Regions from separate parts of the Homo sapiens genome. Here region 1 is linked to region 2. The links come from fine-mapping of genetic effects on gene expression. Tissue or cell type: whole blood. Region 2 holds a variant in brackets; the other region holds the start of a gene. All regions are shown on one strand. Distances are from middle to middle.

Evidence for each region. PIP is the estimated chance that this variant, and not a neighbour inherited with it, causes the effect.
Region 1: CERNA1 starts here. The variant in region 2 is fine-mapped to the expression of CERNA1 in whole blood (TOPMed, PIP above 0.99).

The regions. Positions count from the first base shown.
Region 1 is chr15:52,175,638-52,183,818 of GRCh38, forward strand. CERNA1 (competing endogenous lncRNA 1 for miR-4707-5p and miR-4767) reads left to right here and starts at 4,389. Exons shown (of 3, transcript NR_102751.1): 1 at 4,389-4,764; 2 at 5,413-5,565. It overlaps GNB5 (G protein subunit beta 5), which reads right to left. Exons shown (of 13, transcript NM_016194.4): 3 at 4,131-4,242. RefSeq lists a silencer at 3,800-4,459 and enhancers at 4,505-5,006, 4,830-4,919.
Region 2 is chr15:52,210,733-52,218,891 of GRCh38, forward strand. MYO5C (myosin VC) reads right to left here. Exons shown (of 41, transcript NM_018728.4): 32 at 7,787-7,955; 33 at 3,871-3,958; 34 at 2,456-2,554; 35 at 998-1,152. Among named protein-coding and RNA genes, the nearest start is that of GNB5, 23 kb to the left of the region's middle. The variant G/A (reference allele first, on the strand shown) is at 4,803.

The DNA.
Region 1 (8,181 bases), 35 kb before region 2:
CTGAGGCAGGAGAATCGCTTGAACCTGGGTGGTGGAACTTACAGTGAGCTGAGATTGTGCCACTGGACTCTAGCCTGGGCGACAGAGTGAGACTCCGTCTCAAAAAACAAACAAACAAACAAACAAAAAACGGCCAGGCGCAGTGGGTCACACCTGTAATCCCAGCACTTTGGGAGGCCAAGGTGGACGGATCACAAGGTCAGGAGTTCGAGACCAGCCTGGTTAACACAGTGAAACTCTGTCTCTACTAAAAATACAAAAATTAGCCAGGTGTGATGGCATGTGCCTGTAATCCCAGCTACTCAGGAGGCTGAGGCAGGAGAACTGCTTGAACCCAGGAGGTGGAGGTTGTAGCGAGCTGAGATCATGCCATTGCACTCCAGCCTGGGCAACAGAGCCAGACTCCATCTCAAAAAAAAACAAAACAAAACAAACAAACAAACAAAAACATCTGTTAACTAAGGGGCTGCCAGTCACCATAAGAGATACAGGAAAGTGCATGCTGCCAGCCCCTGCTCTGGGGAGTGAACAGATTCAGTTTATGGTCCTCCCCAGCCTCACCAGACCCTTCCCACCTTCCCCCAGGCTCTCAGCCACTTGCTCAATGGGGAGCCCTGCAAAGAAAGCTGCATCATTCCTAAACTGAATCCTGGCCCAATCACTAACCAGCTGCATGACCCTGAAGGAATTATTCGACTTTGCTAAGCCTGCTCGCTCATCGCACAGATGGGGATGATACCACTTTCCTTCATACAGGGAAAAATGACAGCACTGTTGTTTGCACCTGGCAGGGCTCTAGCTTATACTTCCACAAGTAAAACTCATCAGCATCCTTTCCTCCCTTTCCCACCTGAGTGCCAAGGGACAAACACACTTAGGAAGGAGCTGGGCGAGTCTGGGCTGGGGTAAGGTAAGAGCGGCTGCAGGGTCAACTATGGGACCAAGACAAGCTCAGAAATCATCTCTCGCTCTTCCACCTTCAGCTGTAACTTCCATTAGGAGCTGGCAAGTGGCACGCAAGGTAGGCTCTCTGATAAGAGGGAAAGAGACATTTGTCAAGAACTCTTACCCCAGGTCACTTACCTCTCACACTTCATTTCCCTCCCTCAAGCTGTCTTGTTCTGCCACAAAACATGGCAGGCAGAGTGAGCCCAGTAAAGCAATCAGATCCATCCTCTCTCTCAAAACCCTCCAAGGGTTTCCCAACTCACTGGGAGTAAGAGCCCAAATCTTCACTGCACCCATGGGGTCCTGCATGAGCTCCCAGCATAACCTGCAGCTGGACTCTGCCCTGCATACTCCCCTCCAGACACACCTGCCTCCTCACTCTTCCTCAGATACATCAGATACACCAAACACACCCCCTCCTGGGGCCTCTGCCTAGCTCCTCCTTTTTTTTTTTTTTTTTTTTTTTTGAGACGGAGTCTCGCTCTGTCGCCCAGGCTGGAGTGCAGTGGCAAGATCTCGGCTCACTGCAACCTCCAACTCCCTGGTTTAAGCTATTCTCCTGCCTCAGCCTCCCAAGTAGCTGAGATTACAGGCACCTGCCACCATGCCCAACTAATTTTTGTATTTTTAGTAGAGACGGGGTTTCACCATGTTGGCCAGGATGGTCTCAATCTCCTGACCTCATGATCCACCCGCCTTGGCCTCCCAAAGTGCTGGGATTACAGGCGTGAGCCACCCTGTCGGTCCGAGACCCTGTCTCTTAAAAATAAAGATGAATAAAGAAAAGAATGGCTGAGTGCGGTGGCTCACACCTGTAATCCCAGTACTTTTGGAGGCTCAGGCGGGCAGATCACTTGAGGTCAGGAGTTCGAGACCAGCCTGGCCAACATGGTGAAGCCTACTAAAAATACAAAAATTACTTGGGTGTGGTGGCACATGCCTATAGTCCCAGCTACTTGGGAGGCTGAGGCAGGAGAAACACTTGAACCTGGGAGGTGGAGGTTGCAGTAAGCCAAGACTGTGCCATTGTACTCCAGCCTGGGTGACAGAGGGAGACTCCGTGTCAAAAAAAAAAAAAAAAGAAAAGAAAAGTAGAGAAATGAGAGAACCTGGCTGGGAGATCAGGAGACATGTCAAAGGGGAAGAGGTCAATACAGTGATAAGAACCTTCAAGAAGCAAAGGCTTTATGCGGGGTAGAAGAGAAGTGGTCTGGAAGCTGCAGGGGAATCAAGAGGGACACAACCACATGACTTCTGGTCTTTCCAGCTCACAAATTCTGACATATGCAGGTAGGGATAGACCCTTCCACTGTGGGTCTAAAATCTGGCCCTAGCTTTTGAGGGCACCACACTCTTGGCAGGACAAAAAAAAGTTTCTTCTTTTGGATTGACTACATTTGCCCCCTGAGGTTCCCTTTGAAAAGCTGCATCTCTGCTCTCTGTCTTAAGGCAACTTACAAATTCACAGAAAACCTGAAAATATCCAGGCATGCAGCCTGCACTATTGAATAAGTGAGTTTCTGGAGAACGCCCTCTGCATGAAGCTCAAAACGGGTTTGGCGAAAATAATCTGAAGTGAGCCTGAGCTGGCACTCTGATTGCCTGGGGGGAATCCGGGTCCCAACACTTAGCAGGGGACCTTCGGTAAGTCCTTTAATTCTTTGTGCCTCAGTTTCCTCATCTGTCAAATGGAGAAATTAGATGACCTATGAATACTTTTCACCATGTTGGCCAGGCTGGTCTCAAACTGGGAGAAGGATTTCTGGGAAAACTTTTGCTTTGCTTTCTTGATAGGGAGCAAAGAGAGATTGGTGTCCATATTCCCCCTTCTTCCTGCCTTGGATACAGAAGTGATGTTTGGAGCTGTGGCAATCATATTATAATCATGGGGCAAATGCCACTGCTCTAAGGTGTGGAGAAGAAAGGCAGAAGGAGCCTGGGTCCCTTGGTGGGGGGTGCATGGTGCAGCTGAACAACAGCAGGTGATCATCCACCTTTGCTCTTGTTATGTAAGAAAAGTAACTCTCAATTTGCATAACTACATTATTTGGGGTTTACAGTTAGTGATTGCTGGACAGGATTTCTAAGCTTAGAGTGCCTCCTATTTAAAGAAGACCCCTAGGAAAGCACAGCACACGCTAGATCCAGGTCATCCACTTCTCTTAAGTGATCTTCAGAGATCAAAAGGTAAAGGCCCTAGCACGAACCCCATTTTTCCATTCCACATAGAATGTAAAGGGTGGCATCGATTAGGAATGGCAGGAGAACAACGTCAAGGTGTGCAGGAGGGCACCGTGGGAGGTGCTCAGCAAAGGGGAGATGCCACCCTCAGAGCTCAAAAGTGAGCAGATACAACCACTTCCCCAAGCCTGGCCCCCAGCCCAAGCTCTGCTGAGGAGGAGCCCTCTGACAAAGTAAAGGAACGCTGTTTTGGCCAAGAGCCGCTGAACCTGGCTATTTAATCGCTCACTCATAAAAATCACAGAGCCAGTTCTGAATTACGGTGGTGGTGGTGAAGAATGCAAGTTTAAGATCGCTATGGCTTTTTTATGCCAATCCACCACATCGATCCAAAAGCTTTTTAAACAGCCTTAAACGAACTGAACGGTTGAATTTAGTGAGCTCCTCCGTTTCCCTTCTCTCTCCGTCATCCAGCTCCCCGCCCCAAGGATAGGGGAGAGGTTGGAAAAATGAGCTTTGAAATTGCAGTCTCATAAAAGCAAAACTGAGAAAAGATACAACAGTGATGGAGAAAGCCAGACGGGCATTAAAAAACAAAACAGGAGTCTCTCCTAGGCCGCGCCTACACGGGCTCGCCGCGCTCGCTCGTCACCACCGACACCCCACCCCCTGCCCTCCGCATGGGAGGGGCAAGAACGCGATCCGTTCGCAGCTTCCAGGCAGGTGATGAGGATAGCTAGTCCCGCGGTCCTCCGCTAGCTGGCGGCGGGGGTCGGCCAGGTGCCCGGACCCTCCGAGGGCCCCACCGCCGCGCGTCCCGGGGATCGGGACCGCTACCCGCGCCTCACCTGCGCGCCCGGGCCCCAGGGCCCTGCTCCCGGGCGGTGGCGCGGGCCTGGCTCCCGTCGCAGCCACGACCGCCCCCACCGCCCCCGCCGTCCCCGCCCGGGAAGTGGCGAGCCGGTCCGGCTTGCCCCGCCCGCCTCCCGGCCCGCACTCACGCTCCACATCGTGCAGCTTGGCTCGCTCCTCCTCCAGCTTGCCCTTGAGGCTCTCGGCCTCGCTCTTCAGCGACGCCAGCGTCTCGTTCTCGTGCAGCCCCTCGGTTGCCATCTTCGCGCGGGGACGCAGCGGAGAGGGAAGCGGAGAGCGGGAATGCGCTGAGCCGCGGCGGGCGCCGCTCCAGCAGCCGTCCCCGGCCCCGAGCACCGCCCCGCGGCCCCGCCCTCCGCGATGACGCCAGCAGCTGCGGGCCCGGCTGCTGCGCCTGAGCCCCAAGACCCCGCACCTGGGCGCGCGCTCTGGCGCAGTGCCTGGTGCGATGTCCGCGTCAGCCTCTCTCCTCCGGGAGAGGCAGGGAGTGTGACGCCCATTTTACCAGCGGGCAAACTGTGGCTTAGGGATGCTGGGTGATTTGCCCGAGGACGCACACAGAGGGAAGGGCCAAGCCGGGATTCCAACTCGGGACTCCCCGCTTCTGGGGAGACCGGTGAGGCCCCCGCGACATGGCCCTCCCATCCCCAAGCCTCTCGTGCAGATCTCCGCTCTGTGGGACTTGATTGCGGGCTGCGGGCCCGTGGCTCCTGCAGGCAGAGAGAGGACGGGAGAGGAGACGGCTACGAGGCTTGGCCGCAGGTAGCTACGGTGCTCCCCCAACAAGGAACCGGAAACCCTCTTCGTTTGTTGATCTAAATATACAAAAATAAAACTAGTTGCTGGGTTCTCAGACGGAGTCTCTGCGGCATTAGGAGGCCCACCCTTATTTTCTCTTTTCTTCACGCAGGAATCAGGTCCCTGGCCTGGGGGCGGCAAAAGGAGATGGCGGTGGGTCAAGTGGGCGCGCAGGCTCAGACCTGGGGCTTCTGAGCCCACGCCCAGGCATCTCGGACCTCTCACTTCTGAGGCCACCTCCTGCCCTTTAGAATGAAGGGCTGGCACAGTTCTGCCAGGATGCACGTTTAGCGACTTCTGTCAGACTGAAGCATCCCCTCTCCGCAAGCGCCTGAAGTGTGAGAGGCACTGTTCTAAGTGCTTTAATTTGCACTTGTTTAATCCTCACAGGAGTCAACTTGAATGGGCACACTTATTCCCACTTTACAGAAGAGGAAACTGGGGCACAGAAAGACTGAGTAATTGCTCAGGGGGCATGCTCCAAGAAAGAGGGAGAGACAGGATTTGGACCCAGACAGGCTGGCTCCCTAGTGCTCTGGACTTTGGTGTGGATGATCCAACTCAAGCCTTCTCCTTTTTCCCTCCTATGTGATCTTGCATGCGTTTGTGCAGAGAATGAGAAGGCAGATCAAAGTTACAGATGCTGCGAGAACATCGCCAAGCAGAATCTTGGGTGCTGTCCCCACCTCTCTGTACCTGCTCCCTCCCAGAGAAGCCAGCCTCCACTTGCTGTCCCGGGCCTTCTCTATCTGAGAAAAGTTGAAGGTACTCGATGTTAATCTGTACATAGTTGTTTTGCAGGTTAGAGTCTGGGATCCTCCGTTTCCTTATCTGGAAAAGCTTCTTCATAGGATCTGCTTCATAGGATTGTTATGAGAATTAAGTAAGATGGTGTGGGCCGGGTGCGGTGGTTCACACCTGTAATCCCAACACTTCGGGAGGCCAAGGTGGGTGTATCACCTGAGGTCAGGAGTTCGAAACCAGCCTGGCCAACATGATGAAACCCTCTCTCTACTAAAAATACAAAAATTAGTCGGGCGTGGTGGTACGTGCCTGTAACCTCAGCTACTCAGGAGGCTGAGGCACGAGAATCGCTTGAACCCTGGAATCAGAGGTTGCAGTGAGCCGAGATCGTGCCACTGCACTCCAGCCTGGGCAACAGAGCAAGACTCAAAAAAAACAAAAACAAAAACAAAAACAAAACAAAAAAAGGTAAGATAGTGTGGGTGAAGACTTTAGCAGACTTCTCCGTACATAGCAGATGCTTATTCACTGCTAGTTCTCTTTTCCGTTCCCATCCGTATAATAATAGGTTTACTTGTCGCTGTTCCTTAGTATTTAGATATTTAGCATAGTACTTGCATATGGTAGGTGCTCAGTTAATGCTAGTTTATTAAATGGATGTATAAAAAATATATAAAATATATAAATCTGTATAAACTATGTTAAAAATATAAACATATAACAAACATGTTTATAAATGAATAAATATATAAATACAATTATTAAGTATAAGATAAGAATATATAAAAGCAAAAATATTACACCTGTTTGAGAGTTTGTAAAGCAAAAGGTTAAGAGCACAGGCTCTATCTAGATCTGACTGCCTGGGGGCAAATCCTGGCTCTGCTCTGTGGCCTGAGGGATTTACTTGTGGTGCCTCAGGCTCCTCATCTGTGAATGGGGGACAACACCTCCTTCAGACTCTGTATGGCATTCGGAGAGAGCAGTGCGTGGCACACAGTATGCATCTGTTATTATTACTGAGGCTGCCTGATACGCTTGAGCAGTTCACATGAGGTAATTTAAATGAGACACTGGGTCATGGGGGATTCTTCTCACAAGGGCCATCTCAGGGGGCCCAGGCAAGGCAGCCTCATCTCATCACCTCCTTAGGCTGGCTCTGTTTGGACCGTTGCAGGATGTGTGTGTGGTTCAAGGTCCTCCTGGCTGTGAAGACCTGAGGCACGTGGTACTTCTCACTGGTGTGTGCCCTCTTCTGGGGGTTCTTTGTGTAAAATAAACCTCGAACAGCCTCCAACCTGGAGAGTCAACTATCTAGAGATGAGGCCATCAGACTTTTAATGGTTAGGCAGTTTTCCAAGTACTTTCTTGTATTTTGGTGTTAACTCCCACTGAGGAAGCTGGATATCAGAAAAGTTGAGGTCAGCTACATTCCACAGTGGTTGAGATAAAGGGTCACTCCTATTCACAAAAAGGGCCCAATGGGGACTGTGTCTACATAATCCCAAACAGTTGGATGAAAGGCCAGCTGTCAGTCACTGGATGTCTCTTCAGCTGAATGATGCTGTCTGAATATTTGGGAACCCCCAAGTAGAGAGTAGAGATTGTATTAAAGTAATTGTGGTTTTTGCCATTGCTTTCAATTGAAAGCAATGAGAATTGTTATGAGAATTAAGTAAGATTGTGTGGGCCGGGCGCAGTGGTTCACACCTGTAATCCCAACACTTTGGGAGGCCAAGGTGAGTGTATCACCTGAGGTCAGGAGTTCAAAACCAGCCTGGCCAACATGGTGAAACCCTCTCTCTACTAAAAATACAAAAATTAGCCAGGCATAGTGGTTTGTGCCTGTAACCTCAGCTACTCAGGAGGCTGAGGCACGAGAATCACTTGAACCCTGGAGTCAGAGGTTGCAGTGAGCCGAGATCGTGCCACTGCTTCAATTGAAAGCAATGGCAAAAACCGCAATTACTTTTGCCCCAACCTAATAGTAGCGCTAGCTGGCAACTATTCCCTAGAAAAGTATCTCCAGGCATGGCCCCTGTGCTAGGGAGAACCTGTGTGCCACAGAGGACTCAAAATCTGGGATTCTTGGGCTTATTCCACCTGCAGAGGAAGTTGTTTAAAAAGCAGAAGAGTTAGATTAATAAATAATGGGGGGGGGGTAAGGCCCCCAGAAAGCAGGTTTATTTTTAAGAACTAAATGTCCTCAGTTCTACAATTTGCAGGGCCAAGTTAGAACGTAGACTGTAGAAATATACTACAGGTAGAAGCCCACTACACCTAGGCTGAAGACATATCCAAATTGCTATGCTGTATCAAAGCCTTTTTATGCCACCCTGGGCTGTTTACTTGCTATTTGCTTTAAGGGAATAATTTTTAATGTAATCATGGTCAGGGGTTACAGTGGAATCAGGAGGATAAAAAGTGCCTTTTCTTTTTCAGTTAGATAAAATGTAAAAGTCATCTTTCCTCTCTTTGGTTGTATTATGGATTTTGTTGTTGTTTTTTTAAATGTGTGGGGATTTCCTACTGGGCTTTTCAGGAGGAGTGCTTTACCACTTTTCACCAAGTGGGGGCTCTGCTCAGCTGCACTATTGAGCGCAGCTTTGCAAATTCTCAGAGATAGGACTAATTCTT
Region 2 (8,159 bases):
TTCAATGCTTAGATACAGTTATTTACTCATTGATCACTTATGGAGTTTCCAGGAAAAATAATCAGTATGCTAAGAATGATTTTAGGATTATGTTTCAGTTGGAAAGGAAATTAGCAATAAACTTTATGTTACTGTTAGCCTTCACAAAATCCCGCCCTTTGTCATTGTCACTTTTGATCATTATCCACTTGTCACACCATGAAGAGATGATTGCTCATAAAGAGTTCAGTTGGTGACTTCTGATATGTATACCATACACACATGGTCTGTGTCCTATGGTAGGTTCCCTCTTGCCCAGTGGTAAACTGCTGGCTGCCTGCTTGTCCAGTCATTCCAATAAGGACACCGACTTAGGGAATGGCCAACAGCAAGTTGGAAGGAACCTGGGTCCCTTCATGATCACGTGGAACAGAGCCACCTTCCAACCTAGATGGCTCATTATGGAACCGCTATCAGCAAAGAAAAATCCTCCATCTTCTTTAAGACACTGTATATTGGGCAAAGGGAGGTGGCAGGTGTCTCATAGCTACAATAGCTTAACTTTACTAAGTAACTAACCTAACTAATACACAGTTCATCTTCATTTGTGGACTGGGAATAAAAATACACAATGTGCTTTTAGGAAGAAGAATTATATAATTGCCAAGGGAAGAGATGAATAATTTTTCACTCCATTTCATTTCTCATGATTTACCCTTGTTACAGAGATAGAACCTATACCCCTCACAGCTGATAACTTTACACCCTAAGGGGATAGCAGTGGTGGGGCAGTGGCTACCAGGTTGCAGTCTCGCCGGTAAGGCTTTGAGGCCTATGGCAGATGCTCATCCATTTATCTTTCCCTAACAGTGTGGCTCCCTTCACTAGTTGGGCCTCAAACTTGTTTGAGGAATCATGTGGCTCACCACACAATGGAGGCTCAGGATGGGCAAAGACTGGGCATCTGGTCATTCCCATAGATGTGATACCAGGGGCCAATGTCAAAGGCATTTCCTACCTTAACCACCTGCTTGATGCCATTAATGGTGCTGTTCATGAGGGACTTCAGCATGTTGGCATCATTCAGAGAGTCTGCGTAGCGCACACACATGAACAGGATATGAGCCGGCAGCCCGGGGATCATGTTCACCACCACGCCACGGGGCTTCAAGTCTGAAGCAGAGAGAGCCAATGAGGATTACAGCTGACAGGTCAGCTCTTCTCCTAAGGAACTTGTGACTAGGGGCAGGGGCTTGTTTGCTTTTCTGTGCTTGACACAGTGCCTGAATGTATATGGATTTATTTCCTCTTTGAGGAATTCCATCTGGCTCCTTTCTTGGCACAAGATACACAGGTGTCACTTGTTCCTCTTCTTGTTTACAAAGGACTTTCTCTTTCTTAAAAGGTTGAATAAGAGACAGAATCTTTATTTTTCCCTGGTGTGGAAACCCTGGATTTCAGACCCCCATTGTAAGAAAGAAACTCCATTCCATGCACCCCTACTCCAAGCGCTTTGATGAGGATGGCGTACAGTGTCCACAGTCACATGAAGCTGCCTTGAATAGGGAAAGCAGGCACACCCAGTGCAGCAGAGGATGCCTGGCTGGCCTTGAGGAGAACAGAATGGTGGAAACGCTCAGTGGGGATGAAGGGGAGAGAGAAATCTTACAAAAAAAGTTAAGATAAGCAAACAAGGATGTCCCCTGGCTGCAGGAAGACAGAAGAACAAAGAAGAGGCTCACACTGCATGACACCAGTGATGAGGGGAAAGAAAAGGGTAGAGGTGCTCATATGAGCCAAGGGGGTCACTCGCAGAAGAGGAAGGAAGGCTACACGTTGGCTTTCTGTTTTGAGATCTTGGGGCCAGCTGACAGGGAGGCAGATTTTTCTCCCTATGCCAGAAAACCACGTGGAAGGTCACAGTGAAGACAGTGCAGTAAGATTGGTTCTATGACCACCAACTCTTGAGCATGCACATGGGACATTCCTGTAACTGAGGCATGGCTGGGAAGCCCCATCACATTGCCCGCAGAGAAATTTCTCAGAAGTCAAATGGAGCACAGAGCCACAATTGCTTCCATGATGGCTCCTGTGCTGAGACACAAAAATGAGGTGATGTTTCTCTTCTACCCTGGTCCTACAATTTGGAAAAGGTCAGGGCAGTGGTTCTCAACTGAGGACAGTTTTGGCCCCCACAGGACATTCGGCAATACCTGGAGATATCTTTTATTGTCATCACTAGGGGTTGCTGCTGCCTTCTAGTGAGTAGAAGTCAAGGATGCTGCTCCATCCTTTGTTACTCCCCATTCACAGAGTTAACAGGTCAACAGTGCTGAGGTTGAGAAACTCTGGGCTGGGGGAAGAAGCAGTGGAAGAAAAAGTAGAAAAAGGACCACCCCTGCCCAGGACTTTGGCACTGACTGATATGCAAGTTCTCAAAGAGAAAGCAAAAATCCAGAGTTCCAGGTTTCACTACCAAGAATGAGGTTCTGAATGAGCTTGGCCTCGTCTTCTCTCTTGTATTGCAGCATTCCAAGGTACTCCTTGGGTCCTGAGGACGAGTGCACATCATTGGCTGTAGACAGAGGCAAACAATCAGCTAAATACACAAAAGCAGCTTTCACAGGTCTCACAATGTGACTACTCTCCTACCCCATTCTGGCTGGTTTGCACGTAAATGTCTGTGGCTTTCAGATACATTAAAACTGTACTGTATTGTATCCTGAAGAATTTCTCCAAGTAGTGATTCCTCTTTATGAGTACATCAGTGAGTACAGCTGCTGCTGAAAAGGCCCAATTATCCTTTGAAGAGCCTTATGAGTGCCTGATATGTATCCAGCACATGGTAACAGGAAAGAAATCCAAGATGTTGCCTTGTCTTCAAGATGCCAATGCTACTGTGAAAGAAGACTTGTGAAACATTTGGTGTGCAAAATACCAATGTGCATGATCCTTACTGAGACAGCTGTATTAGTTTCCTGTGGCTGCTGTAAAGTTATCACAAACATAGAGGCTTAAAACAACACAAATGTTTAATCATACAGCTCTGGAGGTCAGAAGTCTGAAAGGTGAGCCAGGGTGGTGAATGATGGTTCATTCATTCATCCCAGCAGTGGGGATGCAGCGGGGGCTGGGAAGCACAGACCTGGGCCCTGCTCTCATGGGGCAGACTGCCATTTGTCATTTATTACTGAAGGAAAGGGATCCTCAGTTTGCTTGTGGACATTTCAAATTTGAGGTGAGAGTTGGATAAGTAAGAATAAAGCTGCTCTTCAAAGAGATGAATATAGAAAAAGAAACAAGATACAGCCTTGGCAGTAAGGCTGGGAGGAAGGGGAAAAGGTAATAAAGAATGAAAGAGTGAGAAATGTGAGCAGGAGCTGAACACAGAAAAGTTCAGTGACAGAAGCAGAAGGAGGGAAGAAGGGAGGAGGGTCCCTTTCACAGAGGCTCACGAGGATGCTTTATGTGTGCCATGCAGTCCATGTTCAGGATGTCTGCTTCTTAGCTCTCTACTTTTCTAATAGAAATTTGGATACTTACTGATCCTACATATGTAACAGGGAGAGAAGGTGAATTTCAAAGCAGTAAATTGAAAAATTGTTCACAATTTCATTTTTTAAAAAAGGGAGCTAACAGAGGAAGAGGTTAATGTGTTAATTATAGGATGTCTCTTGCGAGTACATGAATGTATCTGGTATCATCTGAGTGGGAGGGAGCTGTCTTCCTGACCCAAAGGATCCTTTCGTTAGCCCAGCACTAGGTCACAAACCTCACCACTTGAGAATCATTCCTTTGGGTTTCATAAGCTTTGGACCAGAAAGAAAATAAACACTTGAGCGCATGTTAGCCTTAGCTCAAAAGAATAAGAAAACAAGTATTGTTTCTTACCTTTTCCAATTGTCTTGCTTAGTGTCTTGACTTGATCTTGTAGCTTTTTAATCACTCTGTCTTTCATGTCTAATTCTTCTTCAAGATCCTACAGCAATAAAAAGAAACCAGGATTTAGCTTAGAAGCACTTTAATCTATTTTTTTTTTTTTTGGGTAACAGCTTTATTGACATACAATTTGCATACCGTACAACTCACCCATTTAAAGTGTAAACTCAAAGGTTTTTTAGTGTAGTCAGAGTTGTGCTACAATCATCATTATTTAATTCCAGAACATTTTATTACTCCAAAAATAAAACTGACCTTTAGTGTCACTCTCTAGTTTCTCATTACCTTCCAGCACCTGGCAACCACTCATCTACTTTCTGTCTCTATGGATTTGCCTATTCTGGACATCTCATATAAATAAATTCATAGAATAGGTTTTTTGTGTGTGTGTCTGGCTTCTTTCACTTAGCATAAGGTTTTCAAAATTCATCCATGTCGTAGCATGTATCAGCATTTCATATATTCGTATGGCTGAATAATATCCTATTGTATGCATATACTACATTTATCTTGCTCTTATTACATAGGAGTGCCCATCATAGAGAATTTAAAAATATGAATGTGGGAAAATGGGCTTTCTAGATTTCAGAAGCTGGAGCTAGAGAAATGTTCAGAGATTTGGGCCTGGTTTTGCCTTTCTTTCCTGATAAGTAGGTGGCCTTGCCCATGCTGAATTTGGCTCAAGAACCAGAAGAGTCCTTGGATACCTAGAAATATTTCCTATAAAGGACATAGTGTTTAAGTTCTTCCACATCTGAGCATTTGACACATATAGAATTCAGGCTTCTCTGACCCAGAAAGACCCACCATGCAGGGTCACTGCAGCTGTGTGCCCTCTAGGGACTCTTGGGGCCGAGGGACATTGTGCTGTTTCTACTCTGTGC[G/A]GCCACCTCTCTCCCTGCCACCATTCTGTGTCCCTGGCTAGACATGTTAGGAACTCTATTGACCTTAGAAGTGGCGGTGTCAGTACAGCTTCCTCCCTCCAATTCAAGCCCATCTTATAATATATCTAATAAAATGGGTCACCCATCAACCCATAACCCAGAAAAAAACCACTCTTCACATTTTGATTTCATTCCTTTTTTCCCAATATGGTAAATGTACATTTTATAAAATTGGGATCATATTACATGCAAAATTTCAAATCCTACATTTTTCTCTAGTTATACTGCAGACGTTTTCCCATGTCATTGATAATATACTCAAACCATCATTTTAACAGCCAAGTCATATTATATCATACAACAATTTAACCTTTGCTCTATTGTTAGGTATGCATTTCTCTCCTTTGGGTTGCTTTTTTTCTCTATGATTAATAACACTAAGATGATCACTCTGAACAAAAATCTCGTCCACATGTTCAAGTATTTACTTAGGATAGAACCTTACAAGTTGTGTTACTGAGTCAAAGGGAATGTACTTTCCAAAGGTTCATGATCCATACCTTCAAATAAGCCCTCAAGAAAGTTTATACCAATTTATATTCCCAGCAACCATGTATGACAGTGCCCATTTCAAGATGTTCTCTCCAGCAGCATAAGATCTCTATTAATTATTATTATTATTAGTAGTAGTATTTTTAGAGACAGGATTTTGCTCTGTCATCCAGGCTGGAGTGCAGTAGTGTGATCATAGCTCACTGCAGCCTCAATCTCCTGGGCTCAAGCAGTCCTCTTGCCTCAGCCTCCTGAGTAGCCAGAGCTACAGGCATGCACCACTATATATATATTTTTAAAGTTTTCCTTGTAGAGATGGGGTCTCACTACGTTGCCCTGGCTGGTTGAACTCCTGGCCTCAAGTCATACTTCTGCCATGACATCTTAAAGTGCTGGGATTACAGGCATGAGCCACTGTGCCAGGCCCAGGTCTCTGTTAATTTGACAGGCAAAAATAGTACCTAGTTTTGATTTTGAATTTCTTTGATAAATAGTGAAATGATTACTAAAAGTTTTTTTTTAATCTCTTAATAAGAATTCAGTGACAAAAGAGTCTGGAAAAAAAAAAGAAATTTCTTTGACTCAAAGCATCACATAGTGGTTTGAACAGTGTCACCTTGAAATTCATGTCCAACCCAAACTCCAGAATGTGCCTTTATATGGAAATAGGGTCTTTGCAGCTGTGGTAAGCTAAGGGTCAGTATGAGAGGTGGCTACTACAATTTAGGGTGGGCTGTAAATCCAATGCAGGTGTCCTTATAACAGATGGAAAAGAACACAGAGACAGGGAGAAGGCCAGGTGCAGAGAGGCAGAGGCTGGAGTTACACTGTTCCAAACCAAGGAATGCCTGGAGCCCTCTAGAAGCTGGGAGAGGCAAGGAAGGGTTTTCCTTAGAGACTTCGGAGGAGTGTGCCCTGCTGACACCTTGACTTCAGACTTCTGACCTCCATAATTGAGAGAACACATTTCTGTTGTTTTAAAGCACCTGGTTTGTGGTCATTTGTTACAGCAGCCCTGGCAAACTAATACAGATCAGGTCTCATTTGTGGGTAGAATCCGCCGGCTAATGTATAGAGATGATACTCTTGTTGTGTGTCCGTCTGCTTCTATGTAACAGTGAGGCTACTCCGGGTTCAGAAAGAGCTATTGAAATGAGCATGTCAGGCCTGCCAGCTCCTTAGCTCAGCGCACCTGTGGGGAGCAGAGCCAGACACTTGGAGGAGCTCCAGAAGAGGGCGCCAGGACCGAGCTGTGCTCCAGGGCACCAGGAACGAACTCATAAATCCGTCACAATGCACAGGGACAGTCAGAGTAAAGGATCACATGGGATGACATGCGCAGCACACACATGACCCACCCATGTAGCTTCTCCCTGACCGCTGACTCCATTGAGATCCCAGGGGCCCACAGGAGGCAAGGCAAGGCAAGGCAGCCTCACACATGGACAACAGGCGGTTGCTTCTCTGTTGTAACACGAGGATTCCAGTCTCTGAGAAAGTTGTATCCACCTCAGAAAAGGCAGCTGTCATGTAGGTGTCACTGATTGGAATTTGTTACTTCCTATTAAATGTCAAACTCCTGGAATTTCTCTTTTTGGATGTAACCACTCTTCAAAGTTAAACCCTGACACTCAAAATATGTTTTTCCTCTATCAAGGTTTTCCTGTGAGATTGGAAATGGGGGCCCTGTCAGCAGGGAGAAGGGTACGTGGGCATGTCCACACTGACCCACTGGACTCGTCAGCCCTCCTGCGTTACCCTCTTGGAAGCTGGAAGCTCTCAGGTTTCGAAGGGGCCCGAGAGGGTCCCAGCTCCTAGGAAAGTGGCCTGTCACTTCAGCACTTCTCAGTCTTCTGGGTTCCACACAGCATCACAATTTCAAAATAATTGCTGGGAATTGATGTAAGGTTACCCGATTTCATTTTGGTAAGGGCATTTAAAACTCAGAAAAGACCTTAAACACTTTTAAAAAGTTTTTAAGCCTTCCATCGACATCATGATCATTTCATAGAAGAACATTTTGACTCTAAAAATTGTAGGAAGGCCATACCCCCAGAAGAAAGCATGGGCACTTATATGGGGTGAGTTTTGCTGGGTAAAGCACTCACACGTAGGCCTTGCTATCCTCAGTGTGTTCCAGAGCACAGTGACTCCATCCTGGGTGGTGCCGTGCACTGATAGTGCTGGGGAACTACGGCCTGCACCTCTCTGTCTCTCCTCCTTCACCCTCCCCAGGCGGGCCTGTAAGTCCCCAAGGCCTTCCCAAAGCCAACCTCAGAGACCACCTGTCTTTTGGGATAAGAAAACAGACTGCTCTGATGGAAGGACTTTTGGTCTATAGATGTTAATCATATGCTTTAGGTGGCATGTCCCCCCTTTCAGCAACATCTGCACACAGACAGTCTTTATCACCAAGTTAGAAGACTTCTCACCCTGTTTTCCAAAGTGAGCCGGGATGCTTCCTGCCGGAAGTTACACTTGACTTCACTTTCAGTTTCAAATTGTTTCTTCAAGTGGTCACTGGCCTCCTGCATTTCTTGAATCTTATCAATCAGCTTCTCCTTCTCTTTGGTATGTATTTCATTTTGGGCTTCCAAGGCCCTGAGAAAGGGAGGGAGGAATGGCTGGTATCAGTATGACGGTCATGGAGAAGTCACTCACTGTCATAGCAAGTGCTGATATTTCCAAAGATGGAAGAACACCTTGGCCAATTTCTGTGTAAAGCAAATAGTATTCGAATAGGGGTGTCCTTCCAGGGGAAAGAAAAGAGACCAGGACTGGCTGGGATAGAAAACTGTCCATGGA